Linked DNA regions of Homo sapiens. The protein of the gene in region 2 purifies or fractionates together with the protein of the main gene of each other region. This does not show direct contact. Each region holds a gene or a part of one and is shown on either strand. Other genes may lie near its edges.

The links.
Region 1: the proteins of XIRP2 (region 2) and CRY1 purify together in Homo sapiens (co-immunoprecipitation; one large-scale study listed by IntAct). This does not show direct contact.
Region 3: the proteins of XIRP2 (region 2) and HECW2 purify together in Homo sapiens (affinity purification with mass spectrometry; one large-scale study listed by BioGRID and IntAct). This does not show direct contact.

Annotation. Positions count from the first base shown.
Region 1 is NC_000012.12:107,020,467-107,024,125, reverse strand, and holds part of CRY1 (cryptochrome-1), read left to right. Parts: intron 1-1,933; coding exon 1,934-2,042; intron 2,043-3,659.
Region 2 is NC_000002.12:167,251,974-167,255,632, reverse strand, and holds part of XIRP2 (xin actin-binding repeat-containing protein 2), read right to left. Parts: intron 1,602-3,659; coding exon 1,507-1,601; coding exon of another isoform or gene 1,468-1,506; intron 1-1,467.
Region 3 is NC_000002.12:196,219,529-196,223,187, forward strand, and holds part of HECW2 (E3 ubiquitin-protein ligase HECW2), read right to left. Parts: intron 2,813-3,659; coding exon 2,683-2,812; intron 1,414-2,682; coding exon 1,267-1,413; intron 626-1,266; coding exon 511-625; intron 1-510. UniProt on the Homo sapiens protein: E3 ubiquitin-protein ligase that mediates ubiquitination of TP73. Acts to stabilize TP73 and enhance activation of transcription by TP73. Involved in the regulation of mitotic metaphase/anaphase transition.

The DNA.
Region 1 (3,659 bases), on a different chromosome or scaffold from region 2:
TTACCCCCTCCAGGACATTTAAGTTTTGTACTGTTTCAATTTAAGAAAACTTAAAATTGCTAGTTCTTTCAACTTCTTAATTTTTGATCTGTGTAAAAACCCTTCGATCTTTGTTCTGTCTAGTAACTCTTCTTGCCAAGCAAATACATAAAATTAGATGCTTCCCAATAAACATTTGTCACCAGACATGATAAATTATTCATAGTTGGAGATAATTTTATTAAACTCCAATGCTTTTATATCACTATCCATCTAACAACAACAGTCTTCTCCCCTGAAATATTTGTACATTGGTAGTGGTGGGTTAGGATGGGGATCAGGTGTTAGGGAGGTGACTCCAAACCAAGGCAGAAAAGGGATGTGATAAAATATAAATGTGGGGATAGAAAGGTTTGCTTCCTACTTGGAAACCCATGAGACTTCCTAAGGTGAAATGGTGGGATGTCTTTAACATCCTCATAAAAATATAGCACCTTGACTCTTCAAGCTGTACAGATGGTGCTCCTAAAGAGGAAGAAGTGTCAGACCTGACTAGTGCACTTATGTCACTAATAACTACAGTTGTAAAAAATCAACAAGACTTATTTGGTGAAATGATGGTATCGGAATGTGTAAAGCGAACAAAATGATCTAGACCAAGCAGCTTTTTAGAACAATCTGTCCAGTAGAACTTTCTGCAATGATGGAAATGTTCTGTAGCTATACTGTTCAGTATGGTAGCCAGCCACCAGCTATACATGTGGCTGTTGAGGACTTGAAATGTGGCAAGTGTGACTAAGGAACTGATTTTTAAATTTAACTAACTTAAATTTAAATGGCTACATGTGCCTTTTGGTTACCATATTAGATAGTGCACTTCTAGAATTTGCATTTCCCTGCTTCTTAATCACTCCTCTTCACAAGTAAGAGATAATTGCTATTCTGAAAGACCATGTGGCCTGTGAAAAAGGCAGACAAATACTTAACCTTGAGATCAAAAACATAAAAGAAGCAAAATAGGAAATAAGATACGTCCAGCTGAAAAGAACAGAATCTAAATGAAACTTAACATGAGTCAAATAATAAGATTGGACCTTCCATGGGTGACATCTCTTTTAAATTTGTTCTTGGGAATGTTCCATTTCTTCGCAACAGAAGATGCACAGTAAGCAGTCTTCTGGTACTGCCCCAGAATTTTCCTAGATATCTGTCATGTGTAAGCCTTGTTACTACTTATTTCATTGAAAAAGTCTATAATCTCCACCCCAACTCCATGAAACCTTTTCTTTTTTTTTTTTTTTAGAAGTTAATCTGGCATTTTCTACACTCAGGGAATTAATAACCACATAATTTGGCATCTACTTATTAGTTTCTTTTTTTAATAAATTAGAAACTTGAAAATGGGCATTATGATTTCAATCTCTTAAATGATTACAATATTACAAAAAAGTACTCATAATCTTTTTTTTTTGTCCCCTCAGATTCCTTTTTACCATGATATTCTTAAATTATTCACTTGCTTATTCATTACATAGGATGTTTCTGGTTTTTTCCCCCCAGCAGAAGATATTCTAGATTTTTCAAGTTTTCCTTTCTATATGAAAAGCCATTTTCATACAGAAAATATTTCATCAAGTTTAAACAATGAAACCAATTTAATTGCTTTGATACTTCTTTGTATGTTTTTATGTTCACAAATTAAATTTTTGCTAATAGTCACTTTTATTTAATGAAAATTAGTGATTTTATTCAGTATTTTATTAAAATACTAGGTAATTTGTGCTATAATTAAAAAATATATATTAGTATGGTTTTTGGAAAAAGTATATATCAATAGGAGGTAATAAGATGATAGGTTGGCATTTCAACTTTTAGAATAACATGACTTTGTAATAATTTATGTCTTCTAAATATGTATTTTTTAATAATTTAAATAATACTTTCTTCTCTCTAGATTTTTGCTTCAGTGTCTTGAGGATCTTGATGCCAATCTACGAAAATTAAACTCCCGTCTGTTTGTGATTCGTGGACAACCAGCAGATGTGTTTCCCAGGCTTTTCAAGGTAATTTGAAAAATATTTGCATAAAACAATCTTTTCTCAGATAATATTACATATTTGGTAAATAAAGTTTTTTGACTAATTGAAAATGTAGCGAATATAAGTATTTTCAAGTAAAAATTTTGTGGGTTTTTTTTCTTTATTTAATGAAAAAGCTATACATGGTAAAAATCAGACAGTGAGAAAATAGTTTACAATGAAAAGTTCAATCTTTCTTCTACCTTAAACTGCTCGTTGCCCTCCCAGAAGCAACAGCTACTACCAGTTTCTTATGTATCCAATTCCAGTTTCTTGTTTATCCAATTAGAAATATTCTTTGCATAAACAAGAATTTTTTGTGTGTGTATATATATATATTTTTGTGTGTGTGTGTGTATATATATATGTGTATACACACACACACATCCATGTGTTTGTGTCTGTGTTACTGTCCCCTTTGTTAAAAGTTAAAATGACACACTATACACACCATTCTCTGCCATGCTTTGTTCACATAACCATATCTTTTGGAAGTTGTTCCATATCATTTCCTCGGTCTTTCAGATGACTTCATAGTATTCCATTTTGTAGATGGCTATAATTTTTTAAACTAGCTTTCTACTGAACGTTTAATTATTTTCTCTGTAGGCCTTTTGCTAGTATAAATGCCAGTGAACTTACTTGTCCACATTTATGAATCTTTGCTCACATGGGCCAGTACATTTGTGGGATAATTCTTAGAAGACTTTCTGGGTCAAAGGATTGTAACAATGGACATTTTACCAATAATACAGAATTTGTAGTGCTTTTTTTTTTCTTTTTTTGAGATGGAGTCTTGCTCTTGTCGCCCAGGCTAGAGTGCAATGGCGCAATCTCAGCGCACTACAACCTCTGCCTCCTGGGTTCAGGTGATTCTTCTGCCTCAGCTTCCTGAGTAGCTGGGATTACTGGCGCACGCCACCATGCCTGGCTAATTTTGTACTTTTAGTAGAGACAGGGTTTCACCATGTTGGTCAGGCTGGTCTCGAACTCCTGACCTTAGGTGATCCACCGGCCTCGACCTCCCAAAGTGCTGGAATTAAAGGTGTGAGCCACTGCGCCCAGCACTGTAGTGCTTTTTAAAAAACTTAGTAGGATCTTAAAAATCTTTAAAAATGTTTAAGATACCTAATCTTATCTCTTCCCTTTTTTCCAAATGAAAAAATTAGGCCTAGAGAATAATTGAGTTGCCCAAGATCATACAACTAGCTCATGGAAATGCCCAGACCAGAAACTGAGTTTCCTCATTGCCCTTTTTGTATTCATCCCTTCCTATTTATTACTGTATTAGTCCATTTTCACATTGCTGCAAAGAAATATCTGAGACTGTATAATTTATAAAGAAAAGAGATTTAATTGGCTCACAGTTCTGCAGGCTGTACAGGAAGCATAGTGGCTTCTGGGAAGGCCTCAGGAAACTTACAATCATGGTGGAAGGGGAAGGGAAAGGGGAAGTAAGAACTTCACATGGCCAGAGCAGGAGGAAGAGAGAAGGAGCGGGGAGGTGCCACACTTTAAAAAAAACAAAAAACAAAAAAAAAAACAGATCTTGCAAGCACTCACTCACTATCAGAGCACCAAGGGGAAATCTGCCACCATGAT
Region 2 (3,659 bases):
TGTGGTACAATAATTTATAAAATGGGGAGGGCAGATGTAATTTTTAAATGTTTTGATAATGAAATTAGTGGTGCTAATAGATGATACTTGCTATGGGAATGGAGAAAAGTATATAGCTTAAGAGGTATTTATGGGGCAGAAATTGCAGGACTTGGTGACGGCTTGAATGTAGGGAATGAAGGAAAGGAAGGAGCCAAAGATAACTCCATGCTTTGGTCACTGAGTTAATGTTAATGTCATTTACTGATACAGTAGCATAAAGACTGTAAGTTAAAGAAGGAATTTAGATAGAAGAAAATGGGGCATATTGAGTTTGCTGTACTTATGAGAAATCTAATTGGAGAAGTATATCAGTCATTGAGATATAAGCATCTGATGCACAGAGAGATTTGGCCTAGCAGTACAGACTTCAGAGTCATTACCACATAGATTATTTAAATCATGGGAGTGGATGTGATTCACTAGAAAGAAGAGAAACGTTGAGAAGAATAAATTCCCATAACATAATTGTGAGGACCTCTTACATCTTGGTAATGGACAGAGAGTCCCCCACACAGGTGCCTGAGAAGGAGCACACAAAGAGTAGGGGAAAAGCCATTATACTCTGTTGTTATGGAAACCAAGGGAAAAAAATGTTGCCATGAGGGTGTTCGACATTGTCAATTAAAGTCAGAAAAAATATAGTGTGAGAGATGCACATTAGATTTAGCCAAAAAAAAAAAAAATCAATTTTAGCATCTCAGACTACAGTCACACCAAATGTCACATTCAGTTAAATGCATTTACTTCAAGAGTTTTGGAAAATGAATGCATTTTAACTGTGTGGATAGGGTGTTTCTGTTTGCTCCAGAGAAAAAACAGAGTTTTTCTCTTACCTGTCACTGATATTTTTCTAAATTTCAATTTCATTTTTAAAAACTTAGTCTAGCTCAAAGACAGGTAAATTCTAACCTACCCACCACTTGTTTTGGTATATGAAGTTTTATTGGAACACAGCCAAGCCCATTTATTTACAACCACACCCATTTGTTTAGTTATCTGTGGCTGCTCTTGCTCTCTAATAGAAATTGAGTAGTGACAGAAGCAGTACGGCCTGCAAAGCCAAAATTACTTATGATCTAGACCTTAACAGAAAATGTGTGCTACCTCCTGATCTGGAGTCTAGACTTTAGACTAACACACTAACTTAAAAATCTTGATTTGCAGAGTAACTCTTAATTTTACTCATCTGTGTGATTTTTGTGTTCAGACAAAAGGGATGCTTTTGGATTTGATTAGAAAAGTAAAATTCCTAAAGGAAAAAGGTCGCAGAAATACATCACAGAACATGAGCAAATCTCCCTGTGTGGTTGTGTTAACTGACGCAGCAACAAGATCTGGAAAAATGTGCATCCTCCTAGAGATATGAGGCTATACATAGAGTGCAGCTCCTGGAATATTTGTGGCAAAGACAATTAAACATTTTACCTTAGTTTACTGTTGCAATGGTGGCATCGGAAGCAGGACTTATGAAAATTCTGCTTGTCTGCCACTAGGCACTCCATTGGATAAACTGTCTTTTGACAAAGTATACATATTTCCTTGTCTTGGAGCAGCAGCTTCTAAAAATAAAAATTTACAAAGCCTTCTGTAGTGTTATCTTCAATCATATTGTAAAAACATAACAAAACAAAAACACATATTAACTGGCCATGCGGTTAAAGTAGAAAAGCTCTAAGACTACTGTCCTTATGATGTTTCTCTGGACAGAGACTAACCTATCATCAGGTTTAACGGTCTGCTAGGATGGTCTACATTACTCTAGTGCTTCTACCATTTATAGATTGTACGAGTAGACATTTATGATTTAAAAAAACATACATGAGTAAAATATGTTCATTAGACATATAAGTACATTACAAACATATATATGTGCATATATGTGAGTATATTTTTTATATATATATACATATAAAATACTCAGCAATGGGGAGCTCTGAGATAACTTATCATTGTAGGTAATTGAGTTTTCCCTATATATAAAGGCTTGTACCTAAGCTGGTCAAAAGTTTTTACTTCTTAAAGCATTTTAGATAGATCTTTCTAAAATACATATGTTTTTTAAGCCAAGGACACTGTATTTGCTTCAATATTTTCTTGATGACTTAGAGTTGACTGTAAGATACCAACTCTTAATTGTAATGCAATGAGACTCCTGAACACAGTAAAATGCTCAGGGTCATTTGTCCTCAATCTAACTGGCTTTAGATTGTGGAGCTTTTTGGATTCTCGCATCTGCTTATGTAGTTTTCCTACATCTTTTCTTGCTCCTCTAAAGCACCTATGCTCACTTCCTGTGGCTTTCCTGTAAATGTTAGCCTCTATGAATAATAGTGGTTCTATTACTAACCAGTGTTTGTATAGTGGTTTAAAACTAACACAGAACTTTCACTTCAGAATTGCTTTTTGTCCTCACAGCGATCCTGTGAGAATGACTAAGCTTTGGTATTAGTTATTTATAAAAGAAAATATGCTCAGGTTCCATTATACAAATAATTATATCTACTTTAGTGCCTAGATGGTCAATCTGGGCCACTGAGTGAACTCCTTTGCTTATTTGGTTCTAGTAGAGGACACATTTTTATGTTTATCACAAGTTTCTTTGTATGTTCTATGTGTTTTTGAGCTATCTTAACAGAAGCTGAGTATTTGAAATTAATTAGACAGCTTTGCTTAATTATGCCAGAAGCAAGCACATTAAGAACCATATTAACCTGATAAACTAGACACATATGTTGCAAATATGATGGAGGCATAATTATTAGTTTCAGCAGTTTTTATTTTTAAGCTTGCTATTTCTTTCAATCTGTCTAAAAGAATGGACTAAACTAATGATGCACATTAATTATATAAAATTCTTTTATCATGAAGCCTCATTAATTGCAAGAAGTAGGGAAATGAGCTGTTCTTTGATGTTAAAAATCATGTACTAAGTCCATATGATTTAAACCTCCCTCCTTCCAAATAAAATCAAAATTTTTAAATGCATTGTTTACGCTCATTTGTGAATGAGGTTGATTGAGCAGTGATTTAGTTTATTTTTTAGAAAAGCGAAAAAAATCAGTTAGAAAAAAATGTGGCATCAGAGAAAACTAACTCTATCCAACTCAGTAGCAATAGTTGAATATATAAAAGGTCTAATTCCACACCCACACTTTTGTCAGAGATACAGATCAATAAAAATACTAAAGCACACATGAAGAATGTAAATTGTGTCTCAGACTTCTATCAGTCTGTATTGAACTCAATGCAAATATCATTTAAACCTGGCAGTTAAAAATATGTCAATATTAGGCCAAAGGATATTATTTATTATTGTCTAGAATAATTGCATGAAATAAAATTATTGCTATACCTGTTGCTTTATCCAAAGCCTTATTTACCTTGACAAATATGTCCCAGTAATCTGTATAATAGTATTTGTTATTCTCACACAGTGCAAGTAAATCATACTCTATGCTTTTGTGAAAAGAATGTTGTAAAAGCAAGCATATAAAGAGTCTATAAGCATACATGGGAAGCTGTTAGTTTTAGGTTATATTGTTTGGTTGTTTCCACGCACTCTTTTTAACTGTACATCATTTTGGCTATGGAACACATGCCTTTAAATGGTTAATCTT
Region 3 (3,659 bases), about 29 Mb from region 2:
GCTTGAATTTAGAACTTCTCCAATAATGTTGTATTTTGGGAACTGTGTCTTATTCCATTCAAGTGTTCTGACTATGAATTACAACTGATAAGGAGCGTAGTGAACAGTGGAAAAACTGTGCTGATTGGGAAGCTCAAAGGGTGTGCTTTTCTAAGTTTTAGAAACAAAATGGAATAGGTGGAGTTTGACCAGCTGGATGTTAGCTCCTTGGTGCTTCACTGACAACACGATAAAGTAATTAATTAGTGTTCTTACGGTCACATTTCCTCACCAACAATTAAGAGTTATGACATCCTTTGACGGTGTGTAAACAGTCCTTCTCCCATCTGACAGATGAGGTAATTAGGAAAAGAAGAGAATGTACCTTGCCCAAGGTCTCAAGGGAGCCTGCATCAGACCTATGATTAGAGTCCAAGTGCTGTTGCCTGTCCTATATTCAGTTGGCAAGCTGAACCATGCCTTCCTTTAATTTGAAATTTAAAATCTAGCCATCTATAAATCAAATTTCACCTCCTCTATATTCTGTGTTGTTTCTCCAATCACTTAGGTCTATTTCAGCTGTGCCTGCGATGACCAATTCCAGTTCTCTTGCATCAAAAACAGATACCAGCCTGGCATCCACCACCTGTGGAATAAAAAGAGTACAAGGCATGGCTTAGGAGCCTGGAGAAATATCAGCTATAATTAAGCCTTAGAAAAGGGGACACATGGAGTTTCAGGAATAATATGTGTGTACCTTGTGTTGGCACTTGAAAACCTGTAAAGCTCCCTACAAATATAAGGCATTCTTTAGTATAAGGTTGATGAGATTTGCCTTGACAGAATTTTTGTTTTATAATTGATTGCTGATTAATCTAGGTCCCGTCCACCTTTAGGAAACTATCTAGTGTTTCTACAGAAAAAGTCACATACAATACATGCCAACTCATTCTGATCTCAGATATAATTATTTCACATAGCAAGCATGAGATTTGATTACCCATATCTAAGCATAAGATGCATGGCTTAAATGTTACTAGTGGTCATTAAATCAACAAATGCTACTTGAATGCAGTCCATAACATTTATTTCAGTGATCTCTCGTAACAGTGAGTTAAGCTTCTTTTGGTGCTCTTGAAACATAAGGGAAAAAATACTGAACTTTTCGCATGGAAAGAGCAACAGTAAATACAGCAGAAATAGTCTACACATGTAAAGTACAATAAGATGGACTGTGGCATCATTGATATCAGACTGCAAACTCCTCCTACTGCTGATTGTCTTTACCTCATAGAAGCCACGCACTAAGCTCTCTGTTTGCTGTACAACACCCCTCTCAATCCTCCACTTCACCATCCTCTCGATGTACTCCTTCTTGTTCTTCTCTGTAACTGGGATATTGGCACCCCCTGGCTTTAATTCTCGTTCAGTTATCTGAGATTACAAAATAAAAAGAATGACTACAAAGCAATACTCTTAATGTTATAACAACATTACTAGCATTGAGCTGAAATCAGCCAGCTACCTGTCCCAGCCCTGCCCTAGGCACATCCCACAAGCTGGCAGTGAGGCCCCAGGCACTCACGGAGCACACACACTCAGGAAAAAATAGGCATTGAGGGGGTGCTTGAAAGCTTTGGTGATTAAAGTATATATATGTATTGCTGTTACTACAGGTTAAGTTTTAAAATGCCGATGAATCGGCTTCAGATACTAGCCTGCTACTATTTGAATGTTTGACAAAACCCATTTTCACAAATTTCTCAGAATTGACTATATCTAGCGTAAAGATTTACTTTAAAGCAGAATTACACTCAAGTGAATGTTAAATTGAGAACTTTTTCAAAACACATGGAATGCAGAAAAGCAGCTAAAGATTAATGCCTAAATAAGAATATTAATTATAAACTGGTATATAATTTCTGGAAGAAACGTTTTCCCTACTCTTCCACCAATTTTGAAAAAAAAATTAATATATTCTGTTCTTAAGTCTTCCCCAAAACATTGTTTATGTTCCCTTAGCTTCAAAAAAATCAATTTTGGTTCTCTTTATTTTTCTTTTCTTTTTTGAGACAGGGTCTCACTCTCGTCCCCCAGGCTAGAGTGCAGTGGCATGATCCAGGCTCACTGCAGCCTCAACCTCTCCAGCTCAGGTGACCCTCCCACCTTGGCCTCCTGAGTAGCTGGGACTACAGGTATGTGCCACCACACCTGGCTAATTTTTGTATTTTTTGTAGAGATAGGGTTTCACCATGTTGCCTAGGCTGGTCCTGAACTTCTAGGCTCAACTGATCCTCCTGCCTTGGCCTCCCAAAGTGCTGGGATTACAGGCATGAGCCACCGTGCCCAGCCACCATTCTATAAATGCCAATTAAAAAATTCTGTAGTGTGGACTTTAAAAAACTGCATTCTATATAAGGTAAATTCTCATATTTTGGGGGATATTTTAGTTGGAAATAAAAAGAAGATTGCTTACAACATAAACAGTTATCACCATCTGTAATTTACAGCATCTTAATCTGCAGCTGACATTAATTCTAATCTTTATAACTGCGGTTATTATAACTGTGTGTGATCCTGAGTTTAAATCACCCAATAAACCACGAATAAATAAGCATCTGATCTTAGCCATGGAGTTAATTCTTCACTCATCAATAGCCTTCAGTTACCACACTTAGGCGCCAGGTGTGCAGATACACACACCTGCCCAAATACTTCTTCGTTCACAGTGAACGTGAGGTCTAGGATGTCATGGATATCATTGTCTTTCATCCACTGCAGGCTCTGATGGAACTCTTCATCAAGGTATTCTAGGTCACTCAGGTCACATAGACTAAGATGACAAACAGACAGAAACAAATATGTAGGCATGGCTATTAGCAAAAACCCAGAGTCATAAGGAAAGAAACTAAGAATTAAAGAGAAGAATAAGAGCCACTACATAGGCAGTGATTTCTGGAATGTTCTTAGTCCAAGTCCAGTAATTAAACCAAACCAGTGAAATAATTCAGAAATTTGTTATAAAATTAGAAAGTCCTAAATATATAATATGCCACAGGAATCATTCAGCCTGCGTCTTCCTTTATAGACACAGAACTGGAGGTGCAAAGAATGAGTGCCATCTGCGCAGTCATCCATCATCAATGCCAGATCAGGAACTGGCACTCGGGTTGACAACTTGGATCCATTATTCTTTCTGGCCATATTATACTACCTTAAAATACTGTTATCTTAATTTGAAATTATTTATATATTTCTATATTTTAACTTTTTTTAATTGAAAGACATGATTTTTATTTTAATATTTATTTTATTTTATTTTTTATTAAAGACATGATTCATCTTCACATACATTCCCTTTTTCTTCATGGTTCTTATTCTGAAAATAGTAAGCCACAGAACCTGCCGTCAATCTGTATTTTTCCCCCACTTTTTTTAATTGTAGAGAAAGAATCGACATGAGGTAAGTTACTGTTCCATGGCCCAGTTGTACAGTGGTAGTCATTGATTTGCTATAGCTGTTTTGAAATTTCACTCCCCTTAACCCAATTTTAAGGGTCATTTTTTTTCAGTTCAATCTGAACATTCATTAGGCATCAAGCATGTACCAGACATCTGAATAGCTACTTGATGAATAGTCACTACCCCCAGGAGCTAATGGGCTAGTTGGGGAGCCAAGT